Homo sapiens: one gene and its partner. The protein of the gene in region 2 binds, or shares a complex with, the protein of the main gene of each other region. Each region holds a gene or a part of one and is shown on either strand. Other genes may lie near its edges. A codon is read from its position in the direction of its gene.

Region 1 (15,932 bases), on a different chromosome or scaffold from region 2:
TCTGAGTGCTATCTTCCTTCCCTTGCTAGCATTAAACTGGGCTCCATGAGGGCCAGGACCTTGTCTACCTTGTTCAATGAGGTATTTTCAGGACCCAAAATAGTGCTAGTAGATAGTCAGTAAATGCTCAATAAATGTTTGCTGAAAATCAATAAAACTCCTTCCTAAATAAACTCTCATCCACACTTCAAAACCCAGTTCACAAACCCAGGAATTTGAGGCTGCAGTATCTCCTGTGACCATACTCTCCAAGCACTTGTTCTTGTTGCACTGTTGATGAATGAAACACCCTATGTTTTGTTTTTGAGACAGGGTCTCATTTTGTCACCCAGGCTGGAGCGCAGTGGCGAGATCTCAGTTTACCACAACCTCTGTCTCTTAGGCTCAAGCGATCCTCCTGCCTCAGCCATGTAGCTGGAACTACAGGTGTGCACACCACCATCCAGCTAATGTTTGTATTTTTTGTAGAAACGGGGTTTTGCCATGTTGCTCAGGCTGGTCTCAAACTCCTGAGCTCAAGCAATCCACCTGCCTTGGCCTCCCAAAATGCTGGGATTACAGGTGTGAGTGACAACGCCCGGCCTTGAAATACCCTATGGTTAATGCATTCATGGAGCTCTACTGTACCTCCTGTCCCCTCTGTAGGTTGTGTTAGTGTCACTCAACACTGTAGCTCAAGTTTCCCGTCCTTGTCAAGTAAAGTCACTTCAACTTAGGTAGGGAGCCCAGCAGAAAGCTAGCAGCATGGCTTGTAAATGTGGCTCCCCAACCTGAAGTCCTGATGAGACTATGTTATGTGAAAATGGAAAATATTCTTGATCTTTCTAGGCCTCAGTTTCCTTATCTGTAAAATGACAGTAATAGAATCCAGGGTCGCTAGTTTGTTGGGCAAGCACTGTGAAAACATATCCACTTGTGACCTGCTGCACCTTAAGTTCTTGTTTCCAAAAGTACCAGGAAGAAGCTCAACCCCAGGAAAACACAAAAACCAGCTGGATCCAGAGATGCCTGAGTTGGAGCTGAACTTTGGAGAACTCTCTTCATTACCACACTAAAAATCCCCTCCCTGGCCTGTGCGGTGACTCATGCCTGTAATCCTAGCACTTTAGGAGGCTAAGATGGGTGGATCACTTGAGCCTAGGAGTTTGAGACCAGCCTGGGTAACATAGTGAGACTCCGTATCAACAAAAAATTTAAAAAATTGACTGGGCATGGTGGTGCACACCTCCATAGTCCCAGCTACTCTGGAGGCTGAGTCAGGAGAATCGCTTGAGCCGGGAGGTGGAGGTTGCAGTGAGCCGAGATTGCACTACTGCACTCCAGCCTGGGAGACAGAGTGAGACCCTATCTCAAAAACAAACAAAAAAAAGGTTCAGTCATCTCTGATGGTGTCATCAAGGTGTTCAACGACATGAAGGTGTGTAAGTCTTTGACGCCAGAGAAGGTGAAGAGGCACAGAAGACGGTGCTCTTCTGCCTGAGTGAGGACAAGAACATCATCCTGGGGGAAGGCAATGAGATCCTGGTGGGTGACGTGGGCCAGACCATCCATGACCCCTACACCGCCTTTGTCAAGATGCTGCCAGATAAGAACTGCCACTGTGCCCTCTACGACACAATCTATGAGACCAAGGAGAGCAAGAAGGAGGACCTGGTGTTTATCTTCTGGGCCACTGAATGGGCACCCCTTACGAGCAAAATGATCTATGCCAGCTCCAAAAATGCCATCAAGAAGAAGCTGACAGGGATCAAGCAAGAATTACAAGCAAACTGCTACGAGGAGGTCAAGGACCGCTGCACCCTGGCAGAGAAGGTGGGGGGCAGTGCCTTCATCCCCCTGGAGGGCAAGCCTTTGTGAGCCCTTTCTGGCTCCCTGCCTGGAGCATCTGGCAGCCCCACCTCTGCCCTCAGGGGTTGCAGGCTGCCCCCTTCCTACCAGACCGGAGGGGCTGGAGGGACCCCAGTAGGGGGAGGGCAATCCCTTCAGCCCAGTTGCCAAACAGACCTCCCACCGTGGATTTTCCTTCTCCCTCCATCCCTGACGGTTCTGGCCTTCCCAGACTGCTTTGGATCTTCTGATTCCTCTCGGGTTGAAGCAGATCAAGTTCCCCCCAGGCACCCGAGTTGTGAGGGAGACTGTATTTTTTTTAACAACACCCGCACTCCCCACCTGTTCCTTCCCCTTCCCATGCTGCCAACTATTTTTTTTTTTTTTTTTTTTTTTTGAGACAGAGTCTCACTCTGTTGCCCAGGCTGGAGTGCAGTGACGTGATCACAGCTCACTGCAACCTCCACCTCCTGGGTTCAAGCAATTTTCCTGCTTCAGCCTCCCCAGTAGCTGGGACTACAGGTGTGCACTGTCATGCCCGGCTAATTTTTTGTATTTAAGTAGAGATGGGGTTTCACCGTGTTGCCCAGGCTGGTCTTGAACTCCTGAGTTCAGGCAATCTGCCCACCTCAGCCTCCCAAAGCGCTAGGATTACAGGGATGAGCCACTGCGCCCGGCCCCATGCTGCCAACTTCTAACCACAATAGTGACTCTGTGCTTGTCTAGTTCTGTGTTTAAATGGAATGTTGTGAAGATGACCCCTCCCTGTGCCGACAGGTTCCTCTTCCTTTTCCCCTGGTCACAGCCACTCATGGAAGCAGGACCAGTAAGAAACCTACGATTAAAAAAAAAAAAAAAAAACCCGGGTGCAGTGGCTCATGCCTGTAATCCTAGCACTTTGGGAGGCCGAGGTGGGCAGATCACCCGAGGTCAGGAGTTCGAGACCAGCCTGACCAACATGGAGAAACTCTACTAAAAATACAAAAACTCTACAAAAAATACAAAATTAGCTGGGCGTGGTGGCGCATGCCTGTAATCCCAGCTACTGGGGAAGCTGAGGCAGGAGAATCGCTTGAAGCCAGGAGGCGGAGGTTGCAGTGAGCTGAGATAGCACCACTGCACTGCAGCCTGGGTGACAGAGCGAGACTCTGTCTCAAAAAAAAAAAAAAAAAGATAATAATAGAAAGCTCATTAATGGGGGAAAAAAAATCTCCTCCTAGGGAGAAGCTTATTCACTATTTTATACACAGGCAACATATGTGGAAGCATGGCCGGTGACTGCGCCTGTACTCCTTGACTCCACCTCTGCCCAATAAATGCCCTGCATTCACTTTTGTTCAGGGAGGCACTGCTTTGGGAACTATCCCCAGTGTCCTCCTTACGTGTTAGAATTAATAAAATCCCCTTTTTAAATCCTCCTTGGGAGTAGTCATTGGACCGTCACCCACCAAGCGATCAAACCCACCCATTGTGTGGGTTAACTGTAACAGTAGTTAGCCATAGAGAGTTGTGATAAGAAGCCAAAGAATAAAGCTCCTTTAAAATAAAGAATATTTATTTTAGAATACAGCTTGGCACATAGTAAACATGCACATGGTTTAAATGACTTCATGTTGAGAAGTTACAGCTTTGGCATAAATATGTATGGTATAGAAAGACAAAAAGAGAATGACAGAAAATAACTAAATAGAGTGAATGCTGGGGAAATCGAATAATCTCTCTAATGACACAGATAAGAGCACCTCCAGATGAGCTTACCATTGTTCACGCTGGCTTCACTGGGTTCCACAGAGACAGCCTACAGGCCAGAGATTCTCTAGTACCGAGCCCTAGATGGGACACCTGCCCACATGCAGGGAGTGAAACCCACTCCTTAATGGCCCTCCCACATATACCACAGAAGACACTTAAAATATTATCTCTAGCTCATTACACAAAACCATCACACAAGCCAACCATTTCTTATTTAGAATACGGTTATATGGCTGGATGCAGTGGCTCACGCCTGTAATCCCAGCACTTTGGGAGGCCGAGGTGGGTGGATCACCTGAGGTCAGGAGTTCGAGACCAGCCTGGCCAACATGGTGAAACCCCGTCTCTACTAAAAATACAAAAATTAGCCTGGTGTGGTGGCATGTGCTTGTAATACCAGCCACTCGGGGGGTGGAGGCAGAAGAATCACTTGAACCCAGGAGGCGGAGGTTGCAGTGAGCCAAGATCATGCCACTGTGCTCCAGCCTAGGCAATAGAGCAAGACCCTGTTTCAAAAAAAAAAAAATGATAATTATATAACTTTCAAGAGCAGCCCACATTTTTCTTAGAAGGACACAAGAACACGGAGCACAAAAACTAAACTAGGAAGAGCCACCACTCTGCTGCCACTGGTTGGAGCTGATCACCCCAGGCATCCCTGCTTCTCAGACTCCTCCACTGTATACACAGGAGAAAACCAATCCCTTCTGCCAGCATCTGACACGTCTGTCAGAGCACACATCCTTCCCGACATGGGCTAGAGAGGATTGCAGGGTCTGTCCTCAAGGCTGCTCCCATCCCTGGGGGCTGCTGACTCCAGGCAGCCAAATGTCTCCTGGGAGGCGTAGGTCATGTACACGAAGCCATCCTCATCCTTGTAGTCTCTGTAGATCTCTGCCATGGTTGCGCTCATGCTGACCAGGCTCTTGTTGTTCACCAGCAAGTAAAAGGCTTCCGTGGCTCTCAGGACCATGCGGCTCCTGGGATGGGCAGGAGGGTGGTGAGGGTATGGCCTGCGAGACAGCCCAGGGATCTGCAGCCTCATGACACTCAAGAAGACTGAATTGCTCCCTTCTTCTTCCCTGAGATTTAGGAACTACAAGGCTTCCCATTTGGGTCAAAAGGGTGAGGCCATTCCATGGATGAAATATGACAACACAAACAGGTTGAGGAAACATGACAACACAAAAATGCTAAGCAAATAACTTCCATTTGCTATGAAATTAAAGCTATTGGGCTGGATGCAGTGGCTCACACCTCTAATCCCAGCACTTTGGGAAGCTGAGGCAGGCAGCTCACGAGGTCAAGAAATCGAGGCCATCCTGGCCAACATGGTGAAACCTGGTCTGTACTAAAAATACAAAAATTAGCTGGGTGTGGTGGCGTGAACCTGTAGTCCCAGCTACTCGGGAGGCTGAGGCAGGAGAACCAGGAGGCGGAGGTTGCAGTGAGCCGAAATTGCGCCACTGTACTCCAGCCTGGTGACAGAGCAAGACTGCGTCTCAAAAAAAAAAAAAAAAGAAAAGAAATTAAAGCTATTTCCCTAGAAGTACAAAGGTGATGCACAGTCTCGCTGATATTTCACTTTTTTTTTTTGATTCCCCTGCCTCAACCTCCCAAGTAGCTGGGATGACAGGCACGCAACACCACACCTGGGTAATTTTTGTATTTTTAGTAGAGACGGGGTTTTGCCATGTTGGCCAGGCTGCTCTTGAACTCCTGACCTCAGGTAATCTGCCCTGCCTTGGCTTCCCAAAGTGCTGGGATTACAGTGTGAGCCACTGCGCCTGGCCCTAATCCTAACTTTCATTCTCCCTTGGCCATCTTCCATTCACACTGAACTAACTTTAACATGTAAGTTTGCCTAGAGAGAGGAAATCAGAATGCTCTTAACTCAGTAAAACAAAATAAAAAGAGGCCTGGGCAACATCGTGAGACCCCCATCTCTACAGAACATTTTTAAAATTAGCCGGGCACGGTGGTGCTTTCCTGTAGTCCCAGCTACTCAGGAGGCTGAGATGGGAGGATCGCCTGAGCCCAGAAGGCCAAGGCTGCAGTGAACTAGGTTCACACCACTGCACTCCAGCCTAGGCGACAGAGCTAAATAAAGCAAAATAAAAAGACACTCATTCATCGTGTGTTCTCAAAAAAACAGGCTGCAACAGCGATGCAGCTTCCAAGCACTTTTCAACCCTGTTGAAAACTTACTCATCGGGTATATTTACTTTACTCCCAAATCATTTTTTACTGAATCCATGTGTCAAGTGATGTCCTTTATGCTTTAAGAATAGCTGCCTGTTCTTTGCTGTACCTCTGGCTTAACCAAGGGAGGAGTGTGTTTGGGGGATGCTTTTCTCTCTCAGTGTTCTGAGCAGGGAACGTTTCCTTTGGGGAGAAGTCCCCACCCCTAGGCACACATACACTTGGAAAAGGTGCTGGTCTCTGCAACGGACGCGCAGACTCGGTTTCACACAAGATCTGAAAGAAAGGATCTCCCGGCCTAGCTTGAGAGCCAAGACTAACTACTTTAGGAAATTCTTAGAAATGTTGGCAGGTCTTTTTTGTTGTTGTCGTTGTCTGAGGGATTCTCCTTACCTGTTTAAAATAGAGTAATTCTTTTTTTTTTTTTTTTTTTTTTGAGACAGAGTTTCACTCTTGTTGCCCAGGAGTGCAGTGGAACAGTCTCGGCTCACTGTAACCTCCGCCTCCCAGGTTCAAGCGATTCTCCTGCCTCAGCCTCCCAAGTAGCTAGGATTACAGGCACCCGCCACCACGCCTAGCTAATTTTTGTATTTTTAGTAGAGACAGGGTTTCACCACGTTGGCCAGGCTGGTCTCAAACTCCTGACCTCTGCGATCCACCTGCCTCAGCCTCCCAGAGTGCTGGGATTACAGGCATGAGCCACTCCGCCCGGGGTTTAAAATAGAGTAATTCTAAGAGCATCTTTTCAGGGTACTAGTGAATCTAAAAGGTGACTTCAAAAAAATCTCTTTCCTCTCTTCCCCTGACGTGCCCCCATCCCCAAAATAAAACTGCCAAACGAAGAAAGCCCAACAGCCCCGGCGCACCCAGCGCACCTTCCTCCGGGGCACGCTCTGCGCCACCTACCGGATGATGCTGAGGAACTGGGTCATGGTCAGCTCCTGCGGGACCAGGAACTTGGTTTTGTCCAGCGGGGGCAGGAACGTCTCCCTGGGGTAGCGCTCCACTACCACCTGTCAAGAGTGTCAGTCCTTAAGAATGTGACTCAGCGTGAGTGTTAGGAACTTGGAACAGACAGAGGGAAGCTGTTGGCTGCTCTTGGTTTTTCAGAGAACAGGATCGGAACCCCACCCCCACGCCCCCCAGCGGAAGTCCAGTGGTGTCTTACCGGGATTTTGTTGGGGAACTTTGCCCGGATTCCAGCAACTTCCTCTTGTCTGATTGCTGTGAATATTTCAAGCACAAGAGAAGAAGCAAAGATCAAGAAAAGAAGCAAAGATCAAGAGAAGGCCAGATCCGCTCCTCTCTTTAGATAACCCAGAAAGCTACCCCAAGAAATTTACCCAAGCTTTTCCTCTGCTTGAAGGGTCTGACGCTTGGGATTTTCTGTGGAGGCGGCATTGCACTCAGTAGCTGTGTCTGTTTTAAAAAAGAAAAAAAAACTGTCCCGCAACCGGGAACCTAACTCATTCCTCCAGCTGCTTCCAAACTGCCTGCAGGAGCCTGAAGGAGGCCCTTATGTAGGGCTGAGTGACATCAGGCCTCTCCTCTCCCTCCCCTCTCCCCACTCCCCCTCCCTGGGCAGCAGGAGGTCAGTTCTGATGGAAATGGAATCGCCACCTGCTTGCTGGTCAGAGAAAGCCACTTTGTTCATGACCAGTTCAAGATGTTTCTTTGCAAAAGAAATTAGGGTTTGTAATAAAATCATTGGCTGGGCAGCGGACTGTGGAGAGGTAAAACTGCCTTGTGCTGGGATGTTTTTGCCCTTCAGTAGCAAGGGGGGGTCCAAGCTGGATCCACCTCAGCCTGAAGTGTGCTGTGTAGTTCTCACAATGGTCCATGCCCTTTATCACAGAAGGAAACCTATACTAAGAAAGGTGAAGTGATTTGCTCGAGGGCACACAGCAAGTAAGAGAAGCGGTATGGATTAAAACCTAGAGCTGTACACTGGGTGCAGTGGCCCACGCCTGTAATCCCAGCACGTGGGAGGCCGAGGCGGGTGGATCACCTGGCCAACATGCTGAAACCCCATCTCTACTAAAAATACAAAAATTAGCCGGACGTGGTGGCTGGCACCTGTAATCCCACCTACTCAGGAGGCTGAGGCAAGAGAATCGCTTGAACCCAGGATGCGGAGGTTGTAGTGAGCTCAGGTCACACCATTGCACTCCAGCCTCGGCAACAAGAGCGAAACTTCATCTCAAAACAAAACAAAACAAAACAAAAAAAACCCAGAGTTGTTACAAGGAAGTCCAAGTACTACACTCCAGTATATTCTGTCACTTAGTTTTCTCTGGGATAAAAGAAGGAAGGAAGGACAATTGTCCCCAAGATCTTGCTTTTAGAGTTAAGAAACTGGGTCTCTGGTCATACATAGGGGAAACCAAACTCCATTTCTCCTATATTCTCACAACACAGATCACTTTTGACACTAGATGTGTGTGTGTGTGTGTGGGTGGGTGGGGGTTCCCCATACACCGAGCAATCACTTCTACAGTGGACACCAGCTAGGTGTCCTCCAATCCAACTCTGACACTGTCTACCTGGAGACAGCATCAGATCGGGCTGAGGGCTCTGTCCCACAAGACTGTCCCCCACTTTCAATGCCGATTGCAAGCCCCAAGTTGTGTTTGTTGTTTTTTTGCTTGTTTGAAACAGAGTCTTGCTCTGTTGCCCAGGCTGGAATGTAGTGGCACGATCTCAGCTCACTGCAATCTCTGCCTCCTGAGTTCAAGCGATTTCTCCCGAGTAGCTGGGATTACAGGCACATGACACCATGCCTGGCTAATTTGTGTGTTTTTAGTAGAGAGGGGGTTTCGCCATGTTGGCTAGGCTGGTCTGAAACTCCTGACCTTGTGATCCTCCTGCCTTGGCCTCCCAAAGAGCTGGGATCTCATGCGTGAGCCACTGCGCCCAGCCCCTAGCTTGTTTTCCCTGTGCTTCTGATCTATGGGACATAAGTCAGGCTTCCCACAGCCCCCGCCTTGGGTTTCATTAATTGGCTAGAATGACTCACAGAACTCAGGGAAACACTTTTACCGGCTTATTACAGAGGATATCACAAAGGGTACAGATGAAGAGATGCATAGCGAGGTATGGGGGAAGGGCATACCACCCTCCAGGAACCTCCACGTGTTCAGCTAGCAGAACCTAGGCCTTTTGGGTTTTTACGGAGGCTTCATTATGTAAGCAAGATTGATTAAACCATTGGCCACTGGTAATCAATTTAACTTTCAACCCCTCTACCCTCCCCAGAGGCTGGAGGTGGGGCTAAAAATTCCAACCCTCTAATCTCACCTTTGTCTTTCTGGCGACCAGCCCCCATCCAAAGCTACCCAGGGACTGCTAGCCGTCAGTCAACTGATGAACTAAAAAAAGACACTTATTGCCGGGCATGGTGGCTCATGCCTGTAATCCCAGCACTTTGGGAGACCAAGGTGGGCGGATCACTTGAGGTCAGGAGTTTGAGACCAGCTTGGCCAACATCATGAAACCCTGTCTCTACTAAAATACAAAAAAATTAGCTGGGCGTTGTGGTGGGTGCCTGTAATCCCAGCTACTAGGGAGACTGAGGTAGGAGAATGGCTTGAACCTGGGAGGTGGAGCTTGCAGTAAGCTGAGATTGTGCCACTGCACTCCAGCCTGGGCAACGGAGCGAGACTCCACCTCAGAAAAAAATAAAAATAAAAAAAGACACTTACCACTTTGAAAATTCCAAGGATTCCACCAGGTGCAGTGGCTCACACCTGTAATCCCAGTACTTTAGGAGGCGGAGGTGGGCAGATCACCTGAGGTCAGGAGTTCAAGATCCACTTGGCCATCATGGTGAAACCCCCGTCTTCACTATAAATACAATAATTTGCCAGGCATGGTGGTGGGTACCTGTAATCCCAGCTACTCAGAATCCTGAGGTAGGAGAATCACTTGAACCCAGGAGGTGGAGGTTGAAGTGAGCCGAGATTGCACCACTGCACTCCAGCCTGGGCAACAGAGTGAGACTTCGTCTCAAAAACAAAAAACAGAAACAAACAAAAAAGAAAATTCCAAGAATTTTTAGAACTTGTATTCCAGGAAATTGAATGAAAACTAAACATGTATTTCTCAATATCACAGGGCCTGAGAAATTAATCCCTTGCCTGGACTCAAAAGGGCTAGGAAGGGCAAGACACAGCTCTTCCAGTTCCCACGGCCAGGAGTTGCTTCCTGGTACTTACGCCCATCCAGGTAGCCCTTCAGACACTGCATGGCCAGAAGGCTTGCATTTCCTTTATTGTTAGCAGTGTATGCCATGATTTTCTGTAGTCATTCAGCAGTGAAGAGTATTAAAATGAACAAAATGTGACAAAGGAGAAGGAGATAGTACATTTGCTGGTGAATTGAAGGGCCTGACTCTTGGGGCTTTAGCTCAATGATAAGAAATAGATGTCAAGAGATTAAATGATGGCATCATTGAAGAGATAAGTGGCCTCGTCCTCTTTCTCTGTCTTAAAAAAGAAGGCATCCCGTCAGGTGTGAATAGTAAGGAGCAAGTGTGCAGTGCTCTGTGCTAAAGTACCTTTCAAATCTGCAATCTCATGTAAACTTTCCCAGTTGCCTTGCATGTGGGAAGGGCAGGCAGGATGCTCACACTGCTGTGGTCTAGATCATTCAGCCAGAATGCAAACTGCGCCGGGATCCAACCCAGATTGGCCAATCTCCAGGGGCAGCCCAGACTCTAAGACCAGGCAAAGTTGGTTCCAAGCCTGGCCCTCCCACCTATGCACCTTAATTTCTGATCTTGGATACATGGCTTCACTTTACTAAATACGGCTTTTAATGGTTATGGTAATCTGTAACTCAGAATAGTTATGTGAGGCTTAAATGAACTGGTTTCTGTAAAGCAGCTAGCATAGTGCCTGCCACTGTTCCTCAGTGTATGTATCTTCCCGTCACTTCCCCAAGCCATGGTTCCCCCAAATCTTTATAATCCGAAGAATCCTTATGTGCATTGAGGTCTGAATGCTGAAGGCAGAGGTAGAAGGAAACAGTGCTCAGTTGGGGCCAGGAGAAAATCAATCCCAGCTGTGGTGTTTGGTCAATGATTATAAGGGCTTTGAGATGCTTCTTAACTGCCTTGCGTTTGACTTTCTGGGCTGAGGCATGGAGATTGCTATCTAGTCCAAGCAGGCTTGCCTCTCAGATGGAATGGAGATGAAGGAGGTAATAGAATGAAGCACTGGGAAAAAACAAAATGCAGCAACACTTCCAGAATGCATCATCTTTCAGGCAGAGGAATGGGCTGGATCGTTTTTTCCTTTTCTTTTCTTTTCTTTTTTTTTTTTTGGAGGGGGCGGAGGGAGACGGAGTTTTGCTCTTGTTGCCCAGGCTGGAGTGCAATGGCACGATCTCGGTTCACCGCAACCTCCGCCTTCCAGGTTCAAGCGATTCACTTGCCTCAGCCTCCCAAGTAGCTGGTATTACAGGCATGCGCCACCACGCCCAGCTAATTTTGTATTTTTAGTAGAGACGGGGTTTCTCCATGTTGGTAGGCTGGTCTTGAACTCCCGACCTCAGGTGATCCACCAGCCTCGGCCTCCCAAAGTGCTGGGTTTACAGGCATGAGCCATGGTGCCCGGCCAGTTTTTTTTTCTTTTCTTTTTTTGGGGGTTGAAAGCCATCTTTTGAGGGGAGCAGTGTCTGGTGTGTCGTCTGATGGCATCGTGCTCCTGGCTGGTGCTCCTCTGGCAGTGGAGTGAGACCTAGGTGGCTGGGAGGTGACCAAAACCACACACTATGGATGCTACATGGACCATGGGGAAGGAAATAAGAACAGTCCTGTGGCGAACAGCTGGAGCAAGAGTGCCCTCGCTGGATCAGGAGGTCTGTCTATCAATATTTTAATTTCTTTTTTGTTTTGTTTTGTGTTTTTGAGACAGGGTCTCACTCTGTTGCCCAGCCTGGAGTGCAGTGGAATGATCACAGCTCACTGCAGCATCAACCTTCTGGGCTCAGGTGATCCTCTTGGCTCAGCCTCCCAAGTAGCTGAGACCATAGGCTCACACCACCGTGCCTGGCTAATTTTTTAAATTATTTGTAGAGATGGAGTCTCCCTATGTTGCCTAGGCTGGCCTCATACTCCTGGGCTCAAGCAATCCTGCCTAAGCCTCCCAAAGTGCTGGGATTACAGGCATGGGCCACCATGTCCAGTCTACTAATATTTTAGTAAACAAAAAACTGGCCGGGTGCAGTGGCTCATGCCTGTAATCCCAGCACTTTGGGAGGCTGAACTGAGAAGATTGCTTTGAGACAGGAGTTTGAGACTGATCTGGGCAACAAAGTGAGACCCCTGTCTCTACTACAAATGCTAATAGGTTGGCTTGGTGTCTCACGCCTATAATCCCAGCACTTTGGGAGGCTGAGGTGGGTGGATCACTGAAGATCAGGAGTCCAAGGCCAGCCTGGCCAACAAGGTGAAACCCCGTCTTTACTAAAAATACAAAAATTAGCCGGCATGGTGGTGGGGGCCTGTAATCCCAGCTACTTGGGAGGCTGAATTGGGTGGATCACTTAAGATCAGGAGTCCAAGGCCAGCCTGGCCAACAAGGTGAAACCCTGTCTTTACTAAAAATATAAAAATTAGCCGGCATGGTGGTGGGGGCCTGTAATCCCAGCTACTTGGGAGGCTGAGGCAAAAGAATCCCTTGAACCCAGGAGGCAGAGGTTTCAGTGAGCCGAGATCGCACCACTGTACTCCAGCCTGGGCAACAGAGCAAGACACCATTTCAAAAATAAATAATAAAACACACACAAAAAAGAAAGCAAACTTCTTTGAAATTCATATTATTTGTTAGCAGAATGGATATGTTTTCAGTTGTCTCATAGAGTTGTGAGATGATTGAATGAGGAAATCTATGTGATAAACTCATGTGTATGAGATGACACAGTTGGAGCTCAATAAATGGGAGTTCTCTCACATCGCTCATGCCTCGTGAAGCTCAGAGCCTAGCCCACTCTGCTTGTACTTCCTGGAACCTTTTGAAAGGGCTGTCCCAGCTCTTTCCACTTAGCTCACCACCTCTTCAATCCTTCAACTCCTACCATCTGGAGTCTGTCCCAACACTCATGCAGTGCTCCTGGCAGGTCAGCAATCACACGCACAAGCACTCTTTTTAGTCGTTATCTTATTATTTCATCTTCGATTCTTCAACATTTGGAATTGGCCATTTTCTCCTTTTCAAAAAAAATTTTTTTTAAGACAAGGGTCTCACTATGTTGCCCAGGCTGGTCTCGAACTCCTGGGCTTGAGAGTGATCCTCCTGCCTTGGCCTCCCAAAGTACTGGGATTACAGGCCTGAGCCACTGCATCCAGCCCATTTTCTTTTTTCCTTTTGTCTTTTTTTTTGTAACAGGATCTCGCTCTGTTGCCCAGACTGGAGTGCCTTGGCATAATCATGGCTCATTGCAGCCTCGACCTCCTGGGCTCAAGCTATCCTTCTACCTCAGCCTTCCAAGTAACTGGAACCACAGGCATGCACCACCACACTTGCTTAATTTTTTTACTTTTTGTAGAGAAAAGGCCTTGCTATGTTTCCTAGGCTTGTTTTGACCTCCTGGCCTCAAGGGATCCTCCCACCTTGGCCTCTCAAAGTGTTGGGATTACTTATAGGCATGAGCCACCACACCCAGCCAACATTTTCTTTTCTCATTCTGAAAACTCTCTGATTTCAAGACACCACATTCTTTGGATTCTTCTCCCTGTCCTCTGACCTTTATTCTTGGCCTCTTCTGCTACCTCTCCCTCCTTTGCAGGACCACTTCTCCTTAGGGCCTGTAAGACAACCCAGTCTCAAGATTGGACAACTGATATGTGTGACTAAGATATGTCCTCATTTCTGGCCAGGTGCTGTGGCTCACGCCTGTAACCCCAGCACTTTGGGAGGCTAAGGTGGGTGGATCACCTGAGGTCAGGAGTTTGAGACCAGCCTGACCAACATGGAGAAAACCCATCTCTACAAAAAATACAAAAATTAGCCGGGCGTGGTGGTGCATGCCTGTAATCCCAGCTGCTCAGAAGGCTGAGGCAGGAGAATTGCTTGAACCTGGGAGGTGGAGGTTGCGGTGAGCCGAGATCATACCATTGCACTCCAGCCTGGGCAACAAGAGCGAAATGTCTTCCAAAAAAAAAAAAGGCCGGGAGTGGTGGCTCACTCCTGTAATCCCAGCACACTTTGGGAGGCTGAGGCAGGTGGATCATGAGGTCAGGAGTTTGAAACCAGCCTGCCCAGCATGGTGAAACCCCTTCTTTACTGAAAATACAAAAAATTAGCCAGGCATGGTGGCACATGCCTGTAGTCCCAGCTACTTGGGAGGCTGAGGCAAGAGAATTGCTTGAATGCGGCAGGTGGAGGTTGCAGTGAGCCGAGATCGTGCCATTGCATTCCAGCCTGAGTGACAGAGCAGACTCCATCTCAAAAAAAAAAAAAAAAAAGGTCACAAAACTTGTCAGCATTCTTATCTGTAGTAGGCAATCTTGTGAAAATGCAACAGACTTGATAGGCAAATGGAGCTTTAAGATGAAGTTCTGAAAGGATCACCAGTCCTTGCAACCATCGCTACAGCCAGCCCTTACTATGTATAGATTTGAGAGCCACGAGTGGCCTTTCTGACTCTTGATGTTGGCTTTGCCCTGGTTCCCCCACAATTCTCTCCTTGTTCTCTATGCTTTTCTGGGATGATTTTAATCATTCCTGAGGAGTTTCCTAAGGTGACTCAGCTTTTGCAATGTGATTAAAAATAAGATTGCCTCTTAGCAAGTGTGGGTGTCTGGGGCTCAGGGAGTGACTGGGATAGATCAAGTTTGCTTCCTGTGACTGCTGTCATTCATCCTTTCTCCCTACATTTTCTGATATAGGGAGAAACAAGTTTGGGAACTCTAACAACATGGAAGTGAAATGTGTACACCTAAAATAAGAGGTTGGCTGGGCGTGGTGGCTAACGCCTATAATCCCAGCACTTTGGGAAGCCAAGGCAGAAGGATTGCTTGAGCCCAGGAGTTCAAGACCAGCCTGGGCAACATAGCAAGACCCTGTCTCTACAAAAAAATTTTAAAATTAGGCAGGCATGGGGGCATGTGCCTGTGGTCCCAGCTACTCGGGAGGCTGAGGCAGGAGAATCACTTGAAGCTGGAAGGCAGAGGTTGAAATGAGCTGAGATGGCGCTATTGCACTCCAGTCTGGGTGACAGAGCAAGACTCTGTCTCAAAAAACAAACAAACAAAGATGCTACTTACCAGTAATACTTATTGATCTGATCAACATGGGATAAAAACATTTTATTTAAGAGTCAGGCCATCAAAGAAAATAAATGATTCTGGTTCCCATTCCCAAGTGAGCCACAGAATCATGAAGTCATTTAAGCTCAAAATCTGCTTAGTTAACTTGTGAAATGATTTTAGAACCGGAAATCTTGCTATCCTACCCCAAGGCAGGATTTTTAAAAGTCCATAATAGCTATTACATGACTGAGGGCAAGACTTCATCTGTGCATCCCCAGTAGCTAGCGCAGAGCCTGACGCATAGTACATGCTTATAAAAGTTGAATTGATTTATCTGCATGCAAATTGCTAACAGGGAAAAATGCCCAGCTACAGAGTGATGTTGCTTGTGAAGTCCAGCAAGCAGGAAAGGCAAACTCATATCCAGAATACATGTTGATTAAATGCAAAATGAATTGCAACCCCTTCCATGGGGTAGAATGAGGCCAACTTTGTCTACTTACCACTGAGTTGTCTCCTTGAGGATTGTGCTATATCAAGTCCTCAGCACTGGTCTCTGCTGATTGGACATTTGGCAACAGTGTAGCTACATCAGGCCTGGTGAGTTGGGGTCCATGCCGCTGAGCTCATGCATAACCCCTATCCCTGCCACCATGGATAATCCCTCATTCATTTCTTGTTCCAGTCTTGGGAGAAGTAAGGGATGGTGGCCAAAGTCAACCGGTCAACTAGAAAAATTGTAGTGCCTCCTCCATGTGGATGTTCTCTGTGGGGCATGAACGTGTGATACATAGATGTTTACATTTCATGTCTATGTCTACAGATCCATACTTATGCCCCTTCTCCAGACTTTTTTTTTTTTCTATCCTGATCTTCAAGTTTTTCTTCTTTAAGCCTC
Region 2 (15,332 bases):
AGGCTGCAGTGCAGTGGCGCAGTCTCAGCTTATTACAACATCTGTCTCCTGGGTTCAAGCGATTATCGTGCCTCAGCCTCCAAGTAGCTGGGACTACAGGCACGCACCACCATACCCAGCAAATTTTTGTATTTTTGGTAGAGACAAGGTTTCGCCATGTTGGCCAGGCTGGTCTCGAACTCCTGACCTCAGGTGATCTGCCCGCCTCAGCCTCCCAAAGTGCTGAGATTACAGGCATGAGCCACTGCGCCCAGGCAAAAAATTTAAAATAGTAAAAATCAGCCAAACATGGTGGCATTCATCTGTAGTCCCAGCAACTTAGGAGGCTGAGGTGGGAGGATTTCTTGAGCCCAGGAGGTCAAGGTTGCAGTGACCTATGACTGCACCACTGCACTCCAGCCTGGACAACAGAGTGAGGCCCTGTCTCAAAAAATAAATAAATAGGAGTTTGAGGCCATGTTCACACTCACTGCAGTCCAGTCTGGTAAACAGAGCAAGACGCTGAGTCTTTAAAAAAAAAAAAATTTTTTTTAAAGTCAGCTGCTAAGACACACTAGCCACATATCAAGTGCTCAACTGCCCCGTGTGGCTAATGGCTTCCAAACTGGCAGCACAGGCAACTGTTTTCATCACTGAAGTTCTGTTGGACAAGAATACCTCTGGAAGCACACACGAGAAACTGGTAATGGCGGTTGCCTTCGGGGAGGGAAACTGGGAGAGTGCAGGGCTGTATGCCCTTTTGTACCTCTTGAATTTCATATCATGCGTTTGTACTAGGTGTTTACAAATTATTTTAAAAACATACTGGGAATTAGGAATCCCCATATGGAATCACTGCAGTGGGACACTGATTCCCAAAAAATTACTTTGCAATTTGCCTAAAACAAATTAAGCTAATAGCTATCATGATTTCATATTTAATATTTTTTCACAGCTTAGAGTTTTTTTAGCTCCTGTTGCTATCTCTCTGCTCTTATGAGCTCACAGGGTGACAAAGTGAATTAGTAAGTAGCAGGAGAACATTAAAGGAAAAACTCCTGGGCAACAGGGCAAAACGCCGGCTCTACAGAAAATACAAAACATTAGCCAGGCATGGTGGCATGCACCTATGGTCTTAGCGACTTGGGAGGCTGAGGTGGGAGGATCGCTTGAGCCCGGAAGGCGGTAACTCAATCCCAGCAGAATCCCAGGGAGCGAAGGTGGCTCATCCCAAAAGAAAAACAAGAAGGAAATTCTATTACCAGAAGACAAAGGGATGAAATGAGGGATGGAGAATCAAAGACTGAAGCTACTAGGGTTTGTTTTTATTAATATTTAATTTTTTCAGAGGCAAGGGTCTCAGCATGTTGCCCAGGCTGGCCTTGAACTCCTGGCCTCAAGCAATCCTCCTGCCTGAGCCTTCCGAGTTGTTGGGATTACAGATATGAGCCACTGCATCCAACTTTGGTTCTTGTTTGTCTGTTTTGTTTTGTTTTGTTTTTTTGACAGAGTTTTGCTGTGCCACCCAGGCTGGAGTGCAGTGACTCAGCCTCGGCTCACTGCAGCCTTGACCTTCTGGCCTCAAGTGATCCTCCCACCTCAGCGCCAACCCCCACTGCCCTCCAATATCTGGGACTACAGGTGCGCGTGACCGCGCACAGCTAATTTTTAAATTTTTTGTAGAGATAGGGTTTCACTATGTGGCTCAGGCTGGTCTCCAACTCCTGGACTAAGCGATCTGCCTGCCTTGGCCACCTCCCAAAGTGTGAGCCACCGTGCCCACCCATTGAACATTGAAGCTAGACTGGGCAAACCCTTAAGCCTAAACCAGTAACAGTTTTTCACAAGTTCATAGATGTTACTGTGGTTAATAACACACAAATTCATTTAAAAGCATGTGTGTCCTCATAGTAATTTTTGGTCCTTATTTTTATTTTTATTTTTCAGTTAATGGATATTAAAGATACAACTTTATTTTGTTTTTTTTGAGACAGGGTCTCACTCTGTCGCCCAGGCTGGAGTGCAGTGGCATGATCAGAGCTCATTGCAACCTCCACCTCCTGGGTTCAAGAGATTCTCCTCCCTCAGCTTCCTGAGTAGCTGGGATTGCAGGTACATGCAACCACACCTGGCTAATTTTTGTACTTTTTGTAGAGATAGGGTTTTACCATGTTGCTCACGCTGGTTTTGAACTCCTGAGCTCAAGTGATCCACCTGCCTCGGCCTCCCAAACTGCTGGGATTACACACGTGAGCCACCACACCCGGCCTAAAGATATAATTTCTATCATGAGGAGATCCAAGAACTATTCTCTTTTTCTTTTTTTAATGTTAGAAAGGGATTCTTAACTGAGTATGTGCTGCAGCAAAGGGAGGGGAAATTAAGCAAGAAGAGAAGGGAGCCAGGAAATAAAGGCCCCAACCCAGGAAGCAGTTAAGCAAAGTTCCAGGATGACCACATGTGACAAGTTTAGGGGATAACTTGAGCACATGGAGGACAGAACTTGGAGAGGGCACTGTGGGCCTGGGCGCCACCTGCTCCACCAGAGCACTGGAAGAGAACGATGGCACGATAATGGCAGATGGCACTGAAAGAAAAGGAGAGAGCTTGAGGCACCCTTGGGGGAAGCAGCCATCATCAGAGTGTATTTTATTTTTATTTTATTATATTTTGAGATAGAGTCTCACTCTGTTGCCCAGGCTGGAGTGCAGTGGCATGATCTCGGCTCACTGCAACCTCCACCTCCCAGGTTCCAGTGATTCTCTGCCTCAGCCTCCCAAGTAGCTGAGACTACAGGGGGCACCACCACACCGGCTAATTTTTGTATTTTTAGTAGAGATGGGGTTTCTCCATGTTGGCCAGGTTGGTCTTGAACTCCCGACCTCAGGTGATCCGCCCACCTTGGCCTCCCGAAGTGCTGGGATTACAGGCGTGAGCCACCATGCCTGACCTCACAGCACATTATTAAGCTCTGTGGTGAATAATATTTATATAGTCACAATTCTGTAAACACTGTTCATTTTCTACAAATTGTGGCAAACCCAAACCTCAAGAATGGACAGGGCTGGGGTGTAAAAGAGCTAAGTCCTTGCCAGGTTTACCAGGAAGGCAACAGACAGTGTCTAAAACTATGAGACAGCTGGGCGCGGTGGCTCACGCCTGTAATCCCAGCACTTTGGGAGGCCAAGGCAGGTGGATCACGTGAGGTCAGGAGTTTGAGATCAGCCTTGACAACATGGTGAAACCCCGCGTCTACTAAAAATATCAAATTAGCTGGGCATGGTGGCAGGTGCCTGTAATCCCAGCTAGTAGGGAGGCTGAGGCAGGAGCATTGCTTGAACCCAGGAGGGGGAGGTTGCAGTGAGCCAAGATGGCACCACTGCACTCCAGCCTGGGTGACAGAGTGAGACTGTGTCTCAAAAAAATAATAAAATACAAACAATGAGACGTGCAGGAGATGTGGGGAGAAGCACCAGAAGATTCTGCTGAAAGCCTGCTCCCCAGAAGGGTGGGAACAATAGGGACAATGAACTGCTGTTGTTCGTTATGTTTCATCCCCATTCCGTTTCATTTTATTGAATTGTAAACCGTGTGTATAACAACACTTTTTAATCAATTTTTTAAAAAAGAGAGAGTGGAAAGAAACCGCTTCCTACAACAGAACTGAAGAGCACACCAGTGATTACAGTGTCCAGAGAGGAGGGTGCATTAACACTAGTTTTATTATTTCAATCAGATGCCAAGCAAGAATATATCTGGGGTTCAGACAAGAAAGGCTCTCATTCAAGTGCTTACAAGAGCAATGGAAGGCAAGGACCTGCCCAATTGGCAGGGTGAAAATTAGCCACAACTAGAATAGTAACAACTGTTCATCTTTGAGCACTTACTACAGGCCAGAACTTGCATTAAGGATATCATCTTTTTCTTTTCTTTTTTTCTTTTCCTTTTTTTTTTTTTTTTTTTGTTGTTGTTGTTTTGGAACAGAGTCTCACTCTGTCATGTAGGCTGCAGTGCAGTGGCGCAATCTCAGCTCACTGCAACCTCAGCCTCCCAGGTTCAAGCGATTCTTGTGCCTCAGCCTCACAAGTACCTGGGACTACAGGCATGAACCACCATGCCTGGCTAATTTTTGTATCTTTGGTAGAGATGGGGTTTCACCATGTTGGCCAGGCTGGTTTCGAACTCCTGGCCTCAAGTAATCCACCCACCTCAGCCTCCCAAAGTTATGGGATTACAGGCGTGAGCCACTGTGCCCAGCCAGGATATCATGATATTTACTCCTCACATCAACTGACATTAGCCCCTATTTACAATGAGGAACTGAGGCTCAGAGAGGTTTTGGCACTTGCCTGAGGTCACACACTCTGGGCTCTCTGCTTGGGGCTGAGGGCGAAGGGGCGTTGTGACTTACTTCTCTTTCCTGAACATCAATAAAATTCAATTTAGAAATTTCTGTCTTCAGTGCGATCTCAACGGGCCTGTGAAAAATGCTGACTCGGTGGCAGCTGTCAGCTATCTTAGCCCCATACTCATTGGGTTGCCCTGGGCCCCACACTGTTTTAAGGAAGTCCCAGCAAACAATATGGGATAGAGATGAGATTCAAACCTAAACAGCCCTGGCTCTAAAATCCACTGAACAAAGCTGAAACTAGAATCAGAAAGAACTAGGTAAGAATCCTACTTCTAGCACTTACTACTTCTGTGGCTGTGGCCCCCCCGCAAGTTACTTAACCTCTTTTTTTTTTTTTTTTAAGAGATGAAGTCTCGCTCTGTCACCAGGCTGGAGTGCAGTGGCGTGATCTCGGTTCACTGCAACCTCTGCCTCCTGGGTTCAAGCGATTCTCCTGCTTCAGCCTCCCAAGTAGCTGGGACTACAGATGCGTGCTACCACGCCCAGCTAATTCTTTGTATTTTAGTAGAGACAGGGTTTCACCATGTTGGCCAGGATGGTCTGGATCTCTTGATCTCATGATCCACCCACCTCGGCCTCCCAAAGTGCTGGGATTACAGGCATGAGCCACCGCACCTGGCCACTTAACCTCTTTTAAGCCTATTTTCTCATCCATACAATAGAGATAATGGCAGCACCCACCTTTCAGGTGGCTGGTAAGGAATATTAGGTGAACACAGGTGCCTATGTATGTTCTTCCATTTTCCATAAATGTTAATTCCCTTATCCCTCATCTCCTAGGTTAGTCCCGGAGGACAGACTTGAACTTTGAAAACAGAAAGTAACTGCCAAAAGGGATTATTTAGGGCACAGATTTCCCCCTTTCATTATCCTTTAGGTCCTCAGTGGTGAGGGCAGGGGACAGGAGAGGTGGGGTGAAGCCCAAATTCTTGGACCTCATCCTAGAGTGACTCTTTAGGGTTAGTGTGGGGCTTAGGAATCTGCATTTTGGACCTGTCCCCAGGGCATTCTGATGCCTACAGTTCTCCTGTGTGGCTTTGAATAACGCTGGGTAGTGCTTTAAATCCAAGCTGACAGACCAGTGGGATGTGAACCATCCTTGCAAATGGTTTGAGCCCTTTCTGCACTGGCCTCCAACTTTGCCTTGCTCAGTCTTCAGCTCCCCTTCCATTCTGGCCCTCTCCCCTTACCCTTTCCTTTTTCACTTCCTTTTATTTTTATTTATTTTTATTATTATTTAAAAAAAATTTTTTTTGAGACAGGATCTCACTCTGTCGCCCAGGCTGTAGTGCAGTGGCATTATCTTGGCTCACTGCAATCTCCGCCTCCCGGGTTCAAGCAATTCTCATACCTCAGCCTCCTTAGTAGCTGGGACTACAGACACACACCACCACACCTGGCTAATTTTTGTATTTTTAGTAGAGATGGGCTTTCACCATGTTGGCCAGGCAGGTCTCGAACTCCTGACCTCAAGTGATCCACCAGCTTCGGCCACCCAAAGTGCTGGGATTACAGGCATGACCCACCGTGCCCAGCCTCCTTTTTCACTTCCCACCTTCCTCCCCACCTCTGGGTGCACCCTTCCCTGAGCTCAGCCTGTATTCCTATGTGCTGGCCACTTACCAGCCAGTCCCTTCAGCTGCAATACCCTTTACTCACCTAGAAAGCTCATATCAAAAGTCGCCTCCTCCAGAATACCTCTCAAGTTCTCCTCTCTGGTCCCTTGGCCCTTTGCAGGTACCTTTTTTCTTGCGCAAGTCACGTGATAATGTAAGGGTTTTTTTTTTTTTTTTCCCCCCCATCTGGAGCCTGCCTGGTGGGCTCAGGGTCCATTTGTGCAAACATGCATTTCCCTCTCCTCTGCGCCCCCTCCTTCATGATCCATGCTTTATGCAGCTTCCCCAAGGCATGCAGAGCAAGCTGAGAAGAGGTAGGCAAGCCTGAAGACTTTTCAAAGAAGCAGGGTAGCTTGGGAAGTAAGAGAAGACCAGGAGATAGGGGCTCCTAAAAAGCAGACAAGAGATTACCGAGGGGTTCCCCACAGCTCCAGCACACAGCCGCTGCACAAAAATGCAGTGGAATTACTGAGGGACATTATGTGCTTGATGGGGGACAGGGAATGCTTGTGCCAAGCCACCAAGGATTATGCTGTGCCAGTTGTATACTATCGTTTTGCCAAGGTGAAAGGATTTCCCTACTAAATCCCTTACTTTCCACTTTGTTTAAAATGAGTTTAACACCGAGAGAATAGTTTGTCTCTATGTCCTTATTTCTAATCTTCCTGCTCAACCATTAACTGCAGTAAACACACTCAGACCCATCTAGTCTAAAATTGAGAAGGGGAGGTTCTCACTCCTGGAGAGAGAATTACTGAAAGGGCGGCCCTCATACAGTCCAGGGTCATACCCCCAAGTGCTGGTTTTATACTTGAAAGCAGACAGTGGGACTCTGAACTTTGCAGAGATAAGAGGGACACCTTCCTACCCAGAGAAGCCAAAAGAGCACAGGACGCCCAGGCCGAGGGCAGTGAAGCTTGCTTCCAAGAACTGGCCCGTTCCCCAGCCAACCCCTGTGCCCACTTAGGACTGGCATGTAGCAGTACCTCTCCTCATCCACACTCAGGCCCTAGGCTCCCAATTGACCAAAGCCTGCAAGTATAAAGTGTCCAGAGCATGGGTCCCTGCCAACACTCCCTGCCCTGCTCTTCACTACCTGTGGCCACCACTTATGACATTTTGTTCCGAGTTCATCTGAAAGAGAAATGTCACTTTTGCGTTAGAAAGAAGATATACAGGCCAGGTGTGGTGGTTCATGCCTGTAATCCCAGCACTTTGGGAGGCCGAGTCAGGAGGATCGCCTGAGGCCAGGAGTTGGAGACCAGGTTAGGTAACACAGTGAGACCCCTGTCTCTACAAAATAAACAAATTTTTTTAAAAATGAAAAGATTGGCCGGGCGCGGTGGCTCACGCCTGTGATCCCAGCACTTTGGGAGGCCGAGGCGGGTGGATCACCAGGTCAGGAGATCGAGACCATCCTGGCTAACACGGTGAAACCCCATCTCTACTAAAAACATAAAAAAATTAGCCGGGCGTGGTGGCGGGCTCCTGTAGTCCCAGCTACTCGGGAGGCTGAGGCAGGAGAATGGCGTCAATCCAGGAGGCGGAGCTTGCAGTGAGCCGAGATCGCGCCATTGCACTCCAGCCTGGGCGACAGAGCCAGACTCCGTCGCAAAAAAAAAAAAAAAAAGAAAAAAGAAAAAATTAGCTGGGCGTGGTGGTGCACGCCTGTAGTCCCAGCTGCTTGGAGGCTGAGGTGGGAGAACCACTTAGTCCGTGAGGTCAAAGCTGTGGTGAGCCGTGATCGTGCCACAGCACTCCAGTCTGGGCGACAGAGTGAGACCCTGTCTCAAAAAAAAAGCAGAAAGGAAGAAAGAAATCCTCTACACGGGCTAGAAGAGAATAACCAGACCCCTAAGCTTCAAGCCAGGCGGTGCTAATGGGCGAGTTACACACGGGAGAGTGCCCAAGGGGACCTCAAGGCGTTCCCTTGGGATAAAGTGTGGTCAAAACAGCTATGTTTATCCTGAAAGCGCAAGGCGGAGGCTCCAATTTGGGCCCGGGCTCCGCCCCACGGGCTGCACTGCTGCCCTCGGAGAGGCAAAGATAGGGCAGGCGTTATTAGTCCCACTCACAAGTGGGAACTCTTCAGCTGAGGGAGGCGAAGTGACAGCCCCAATGTTGCACAGATGGTTCTGAGGCCAAACGAGGTCAGGAACCCAGAAGCCAGGATCTAGTTTGACGCAGACCTGCGGGAGGCGGGCGGTAACGGATGCGTTCTCCCTGACACCGGTGCCTTCGCCTCTCTGCGCCCTGCAGGCGCCCCCAGTTCCCCAGCCTCCCAGACCTCGCATCTGCCCCGGGGCTCAGCTCCCAGGGACTTCCGGGAGCAGCTGGCCCCGCCCCAAGGCTCCTTCGGGCTGCGCGATTGGCACCGCGGGCCGGGGCAGGGCCGGAGCGCCGAGCCAACGTGATGGCGTCAGGGGCCGGGGCGCCGCTTCCTGTTGTCAGTGGCCGAGAGACCGCATCGTCGGCTCGGAGGCTGAGGGGCTGCCGCGGCCGGGAGCGCCCCTCGCCTCGCTCCTCGCTCCGCTTGGTGAGTTAGGGGGTCAAGATGCGAGGAGGGCGGCGGAGTGGTGGGAGGGCCGAGGCGCGAACGGGCGGTGGGCCTCCCGCTCCCTCCGCGATTCCCAGCCCCTGGTTACCCTGAGACTGCCCGGCTTCAGGGCCCTCAGCCCTGTCCAGCCCGCGCCCGCTCCTCTCCGACCCAGCCTTCCCCCTGCACCGCCGCTGTGGCCCCGTCCCCTCCGTCTGTCCAGCCCCCAGCCCGCGCCCGCATCCCCTCACCAGCGGTCTTGCTTAAATGCAGCTTCACTCGTGACCCCACTTTACCCCAGTTCCAACACCGATCTCGGCCACGTCCCTTCGCCCCGCCCTGACACACCTCATCCTCTCTCCCCACCCCTCTGGTAATCCCGATGCTCCGCGCTTACCTCCCCGAGACCCACCATTCAGGTTTCCCCTTTTCTGGCTCAGCTTTCTTATCCCAGTCACCCCCATCCCCCGTCTAGCTCCCCAAGATCTGCTCATCCCAAACATTCTACCTCCGCCCTCTCATCTAAGACCCACCCCCAAAGTAGGTGCCCTGTTGAGCTCACCGCTTTCTTCTGGATAACTCCGATCTCAGCCTTATTCCAAGTCTTAACTGTGTCTTCTCGTCCTTAGTCTCCTAGCCACTGTATACCTTCCTTTGCGTCTCCTGCCGTACTGAGGACAGCCCATCCCTAAGTCTTTGCCAAACTGTCCCGAACTCTTGCTGCCTCCTTTCCTACCACCCTCACCCAATCTTGTTAAAAATGACATCTCCATGTCCTTTCACCCCCGCTGACCCACCGCAACTCTTCACCCCAACTCTGCGTCCATTGCTTCCCTCGACCCAACTCCCATTCAACCTGAGAACTTAGTGCAGAGTCGCCTGCCAACTCCACCAGCTGCCCCTCAACAGCCAAATGTAGGTGCTCACTCAGACCCGCAGTTACAGACTGAGCAGCATGATTGGCGGGTGCAGGGGCTCAGGTGGTAAATAAGGGTGGAGGAGCAGTGGGCTCTCCCCAACTCTTGGGTGGGGCCGGGGTTTTTCCTGGCATCTGGTCTCCTGCACCTGTCCTCAGGGATTGTGTTTTTGGCATTCATATTAAATGACTTGTGCTGGCTGCTGGAATGGTAGGTATCATTCAAATATCTGGAAGGTGAGAGACGGCCACTCACTCAGCTCACTTAGCACAGAATGATGGAAGCTGTCACTTCCTTCTGGTTGGTGTTCTCGCCCTGGAGAGCTTCTGGGAAGTTCTGTGTGGTGTTGGCTGTGGTCACAGAATATTGTTCGTGTTCCTTTTCTTGGCACTTGTAAGGGCCTCTCCCTGCCAGAGCTGATGGCAGATCAGTCCTGATGCTGAATTCAGGGGATATGATGGGTGCCAGAGGCAACGTTACCTGTTGTGAAGAGTATAGGTGAGTAGGTCCTGGGGAGGCTGAGGCCTAGGTGGGTACAGAGGCTCTTGAATCGCTTTCTTTTCTTTTAAGTGCTGGATCATTGACTTTTGGCCATCTGGGTTCCATGAACACAGGGAACCATGTTATCTCAGAGTAGCTGAGGCAGAAGGACATTCCAGAGGCACCCAAGTCCCATGCTCAGCATTTATAGTTTCCTGGGGGCTTTTTGGTACACATTTTCTCTGAATCCTGAGGACCCGGCATCAGATGGGTGGGCCATTTGATTGCAGCTTTTTTCTTTCTTTCTTTCTTTTTTTCGACGGAGTTTACTCTTGTTCCCCAGCCTGGAGTGCAGTGGCATGATCTCGGCTCACCGCAACCTCTGCCTCCCAGGTTCAAGCGATTCTCCTGCCTCAGCCTCCCGAGTAGCTGGGATTACAGGCATACACCACCATGCCCGGCTAGTTTTGTATTTTTAGTAGAGATGGGGGTTTCTCTGTGTTGATCAGGCTGGTCTCCAACTCCCGACCTCAGGTGATCCACCCACCTCGGCCTCCCAAAGTGCTGGGATTACGGGCGTGAGCCGCCGCACCTGGCTGATTGCAGTTTTAAAGAGCCCCAAAGAACACTGTCTCTGCTTGCCACTTATAGTCGTATTCCTTTGAAAAGTGAATGCTGTTTACCTTCAATGTCCTCCCATTAATATGCAGTATATTTAAGTTGTTTTCAGCCTTATTGGCAGCTTGGCTTAATGACAGGAGCTCCACAGTTGCCCCAGCACTTAAGAGTTGTATACCCCAACTTCCCACAGTGTGTGAAGTGGAGGTACTTACCCCGTGCCTTGTTTTTATTTTATTAATCAATTCATTCAACAGCTTATTTTTTGAGCACCAGTGTGTGACAAACACTGTTCCAGGTACTAGAAATACAATGGTGAATGGGTCAGGCAACGGTCCTGTTTTCATTCATTCAGAGTTTGGTCCTTGTTAGAATCCTCTGGGATATGGGACAAGAATACAGGAAAGCTGGGTGATACTGGATGGAAGGAAGGAGGGAGGAAAGAAAGATAGCTAGTGTTCACTGACTCCACAATTCTGCCCTCATCCACTAGCCCTGAGTCTGGGAATCACAAGCTAAAAGTTTCTCACCCTTCATCTGGTATTTAATTGCTTCAAAGCTCCAACCCCCACCACTCCACCCATCACAGAAATCCAGCTTTCCTCAGGTGGACAGAGGTGCAGTTTCCTCAGTCAGCACTCACATGCCTGAAAGATCAGCTGCCTTTCTGAATCAGAGGATAACTTTGTCATTCTTTTCCAATTGAAAAAACATGACTCATCAATTGGTACAGCAGTTGGATGGCTTAAAGCCAGGCTGTGGCTCTGAACAGCCAGTTACACAATTCAGGCAGTGGAGAGAAGGCCGTGGGGAGTGGCTGAGGAGTCCCTCAAGAGAAGAGGTTGCTGTTCACTGATGGTGGAGTGTTTTGAGAGTGGTGGAACCAGGTTATCCCTTTCTTCTTTTAACGTAAGTCTCATCCAAGTCATTCTCTTTTTTTGCTTCCTTGATCTCTGGAGGAAGTGAAATTGGACATATAGAGAAGGCCAGGCAGTATAATGCAGGAAACCAACCGGAACTGTTCCTTCCTAACTATGTTGGAACATTTAAGAAAGTATAGCTCTGAGACTTTAGGAGCATTGGTAGGACCTGGTCTCAGCTGGTTGGGGCTATAAACCTGATTGGCAGAACTGTTTCTTGTTGGTTTCAGACCTTCTGTGATGAAATGGAGCTTCCGAGTACCTCTAAAGAAGAAGTAATAGTTTGTCTGAATTTGAGCCAAAGACCTGAGGCCTTTTGGTCCAGGGAAAGATGCAGGAGTTGGGATGAAGAAACCAGAGAGTTCTGTCCCTTACCCGAGACCCATTGCTACTGAGCCTCAGTTTTGTCCTCTGTAAAACAGGGATAATCACTCTCTCACGGGATTGCTGTGAGAATTAAATGAGGTTAGAGAGGGACATCAGAGAAGCTTGCTTTCTGCACTCTGGAGAGCTATGTGAAGGCGAATGAATACACAGGGTGGCAGTAGACTTGGTGTGGTTTGGGGCTTCCTAAATGGCACCAGTCACCTTTCCCCTGCTAAGATTTCACCCGTCATGTTCAAGAGCCCTTTGGTACTGTTGCCCAGCTTTGCCTCACTCCCTTCAGGTAGGTCTCCTTGAAGCCACACCTCTCTTCACTTTGGTTCTTTGTGTCAATGAAGAGCGTTTTGAGGACAGAAAGTGGAACCAGTTCCATAGGATGGTAGATTCAGAATCTGGGCCACCAGGGTGGGTGACGCAGTACTGTCCCCACAGTCAAGAGACACAAAGCCTCCTTCTGATTCCCGCCGTGAGTTCTTATGTCACTGACCATCTGAGCCCTGCCTCCCTGAGCATGATGGAACAGATACAGATAGGTGGGGTGCTATGGCTGCCTACAAACAGAGGTGTCCTGCATTGTGGCTGGAACCCCAGAGGCTCAGTCCTGTCTTGTGAATTTTCAAGTGGCTCTTCTGCTGGATTTCTCTGAGCTCTTGTCAGTCATTTTGTGGCATTTCTGACTCTGTTTTAGGCCAAGTGACCCTTCTCTTGTCTGGCCCTGTCTCTCTTAGCTTCAGTTTATTATTATTAATTTTTTTTTTTGAGATGGAGTCTCGCTCTGTTGCCCAAGCTGGGGTGCAGTGGCACAATCTTGGCTCACTGCAAGCTCCACCTCCTGGGTCCACGCCATTCTCCTGCCTCAGCCTCCCAAGTAGCTGGGACTACAGGTGCCCGCCCGGCTAATTTTTTGTATTTTTAGTAGAGATGGGGTTTCACCGTGTTAGCCAGGATGGTCTCGATCTCCTGACCTCGTGATCCACCCGCCTCGGCCTCCCAAAGTGCTGGGATTACAGGCGTGAGCCACCGCGCCCAGCCAGCTTCAGTTTATTATTTATTTATTTATTTGAGACATAAATTATTATTATTATTATTATTTTTTTATTTTATCTTTTTTTTTTTGAGACGGAGTCTCTCTCTGTCGCCTAGGCTGGAGTGCAGTGGCGGGATCTCGGCTCACTGCAAGCTCCGCCTCCCAGGTTCACGCCATTCTCCTGCCTCAGCCTCCCGAGTAGCTGGGACTACAGGCGCTCACCACTGCACCCGGCTAATTTTTTTGTATTTTTAGTAGAGACGGGGTTTCACCGTGTTAGCCAGGATGGTCTCGATCTCCTGACCTCGTGATCCGCCGGCCTCGGCCTCCCAAAGTGCTGGGATTACAGGCGTGAGCCACGGCGCCATGCCATAAATTATTTATTTATTTATTTATTCTTGCTTTGCTGCCCCGGCTGGAGTGCAGTGGCATGATCTCGACTCACTGCAACCTCCGCCTCCTGGGTTCAAGTGGTTCTCCTGCCTCAGCCGGTATGGTAGCTGGTAATACCAGTAGCTGGTATTACAGGCATGGGCCACCATGCCTGGCTAATTTTTGTTTTTTTTTTTAATTAGAGATAGGGTTTCACCATGTTGGCCAGGCTGGTCTCAAACTCCTGACCTCAAGTGATCCTCCTGCCTCGGCCTCCCAAAGTGCTGGGATTACAGGTGTGGGCCACGGCACCTGGCCTATTTTGTCTTCTTAGCATACTGTTACTTGGCCAGAGCACTCACTTACCAATGGCCTGCTCCTCCCAGTGAATACTCTGTGAATACTCTATCACTCTCAGCTAATTAGTTAATGAGGTCTTAATGGGCCTGGGCTATAATTCAAATTATTGGGTCTAAGTCCTTAGGGTCCCGGCCCTGTAGCTGGTTAAGGGAAGGGCAACTTTGGGGCTTCGGGCTCTCTCTAGAAGGGTGGGCCTGAGGGCCTCAGGCCACTGGAAATTGTGGACTGGGATTGGAGCCCAGGGTTTCGGAGCCAGAGAAGCTGGACGTGGCCTGCTGAGCTGCAAAAGGGTAGCCTTGATGGAGCCTGACCTCAAGACCAGGCCTGTTTCTGGAAGTGACCCTAGATGCAGAGTCACTGCAGCATACAACCCCCTTTTCCTGTCACCCCGTGGCCAGAATGTGGAACTGGTCTCCAGAGGAGGGCTCTGAGAATCCCTGGGTAGCTGGGAGCAGACTATGGTGAAGGGTGAGGCAGTCAGATGGGGCTGTAGTCAGGACTGAGGGCTCTTCTGGCCATCTGCAGCACCCGGCCTGTTACTGGGTCTGCAGGAACCATCCTCCATACATGCCTGCTTCCTCCTGAGGGACCTGACTTAGGGAGGTTGGCTCTGGGTCCTGACTCCCTGTGTCCTGTTTGCCCTCTGCTATCCCCAGAAGCCAGAGATCCAATCAGAGCACCTTCCACCATTTAGGGCCAGCCTGCCTGTCTGCTTTCCAAACCTCATGCTGCTCCAGGGCTGTCCAGGAAACCTTTCCTGCCACACTGGCCTTAATGTTCCCCTGCACCCCCTGTTCCCGGCCCCCAGCGAAAGGGTCTTCCCAGACCACCCCTGGAATCCTAGCTCTGAGGTGATGGCACTGTTGATGAAAAAGCCAAACTCTGTTAAATATTCGAAGAGGTTTATTCTGAGCCAAATGTGAGGGCCATGACCTGTGACATAGTCCTGGGAGGTCCTGAGAACATGTGCCCAAGGTGATTGGGGTACAGCTTGATTTTTATCCAAGTTACAGGCAGAAGTTACAGGCAAAGACATAAATTGATATATGTAAGGTATACATTGGTGGGGACAGGGTAAGGTGGATTAAAAGATTTTCCTGATTGGCAATTGGCTGAAAAAGTTAAACTTTGCCTAAAGAGTTAAAAGTCAGCAGAAGAAAAGCTTGGGGTTAAGATAAGGTGGGTTGTGAAAGCCAAGGTTCATGTAACGTAGATGAAGCCTTCAAGAGAATAGATGGTAAATGTCTCTAAGGTGTCAGACTCTTAGTTAAATCTCCTCTAAATCAGGAAAAGGCCTAGAAAGGGAAGGGAATCTCTGCAGGACATAAATTTTCCCAACAAGAGATGGCTTTGCAGGGCCATTCCAAACTATGTCAAAAATATACTTGGGGGTAAGATACTTTGATTTCCTTAGGGCCTGTTATCTCCCATGTGATGTTAGACCAGTCAGGTTGGAGTTGGTATCTTAATTGCTGAGAGTCTGTTCTGTCAGTCTTAGGAGTCTGTTTTAATGTTAATGCTGGTCAGTTGTGTCTAAGCTCCAAAAGGGAGAGGCTAGGATGAGGCATGGCCCACGCCCCACTTCGTGTCATGGCCTGAACTCAGTTTTCAGTTTTTTTGAAATCCCTTTGGCCAAGGGGGGCCCATTCAGGCAGTTGGGGAGCTTAGAATTTTATTTTTGGTTTACAGCACTCACTCAGGAATCGGGTTTT

The links.
Region 1: the proteins of PLEKHM1 (region 2) and MAP1LC3C are in contact, whole or in part, in a crystal structure (PDB 5DPW), measured with the Homo sapiens proteins. Residues at the interface, in NP_055613.1 of Homo sapiens: Glu632, Asp633, Glu634, Trp635, Val636, Asn637, Val638, Gln639, Tyr640; in NP_001004343.1 of Homo sapiens: Phe13 (codon at 7,146), Arg16 (codon at 7,137), Lys17 (codon at 7,134), Glu25 (codon at 6,991), Ile29 (codon at 6,979), Phe33 (codon at 6,967), Lys36 (codon at 6,958), Pro38 (codon at 6,952), Asp54 (codon at 6,749), Lys55 (codon at 6,746), Thr56 (codon at 6,743), Lys57 (codon at 6,740), Phe58 (codon at 6,737), Leu59 (codon at 6,734), Val60 (codon at 6,731), Pro61 (codon at 6,728), Glu63 (codon at 6,722), Leu64 (codon at 6,719), Ile72 (codon at 6,695), Arg76 (codon at 4,555), Phe114 (codon at 4,441).

Annotation. Positions count from the first base shown.
Region 1 is NC_000001.11:241,991,827-242,007,758, forward strand, and holds MAP1LC3C (microtubule-associated protein 1 light chain 3 gamma), read right to left. Parts: upstream 7,273-15,932; 5' UTR 7,183-7,272; coding exon 7,125-7,182; intron 7,006-7,124; coding exon 6,950-7,005; intron 6,795-6,949; coding exon 6,688-6,794; intron 4,560-6,687; coding exon 4,337-4,559; 3' UTR 3,664-4,336; downstream 1-3,663.
Region 2 is NC_000017.11:45,483,862-45,499,193, reverse strand, and holds the start of PLEKHM1 (pleckstrin homology domain-containing family M member 1), read left to right. Parts: upstream 1-8,472; 5' UTR 8,473-8,542; exon of another isoform or gene 8,543-9,957; intron 9,958-11,331; exon of another isoform or gene 11,332-11,412; coding exon of another isoform or gene 11,413-11,466; intron 11,467-15,332. UniProt on the Homo sapiens protein: Acts as a multivalent adapter protein that regulates Rab7-dependent and HOPS complex-dependent fusion events in the endolysosomal system and couples autophagic and the endocytic trafficking pathways.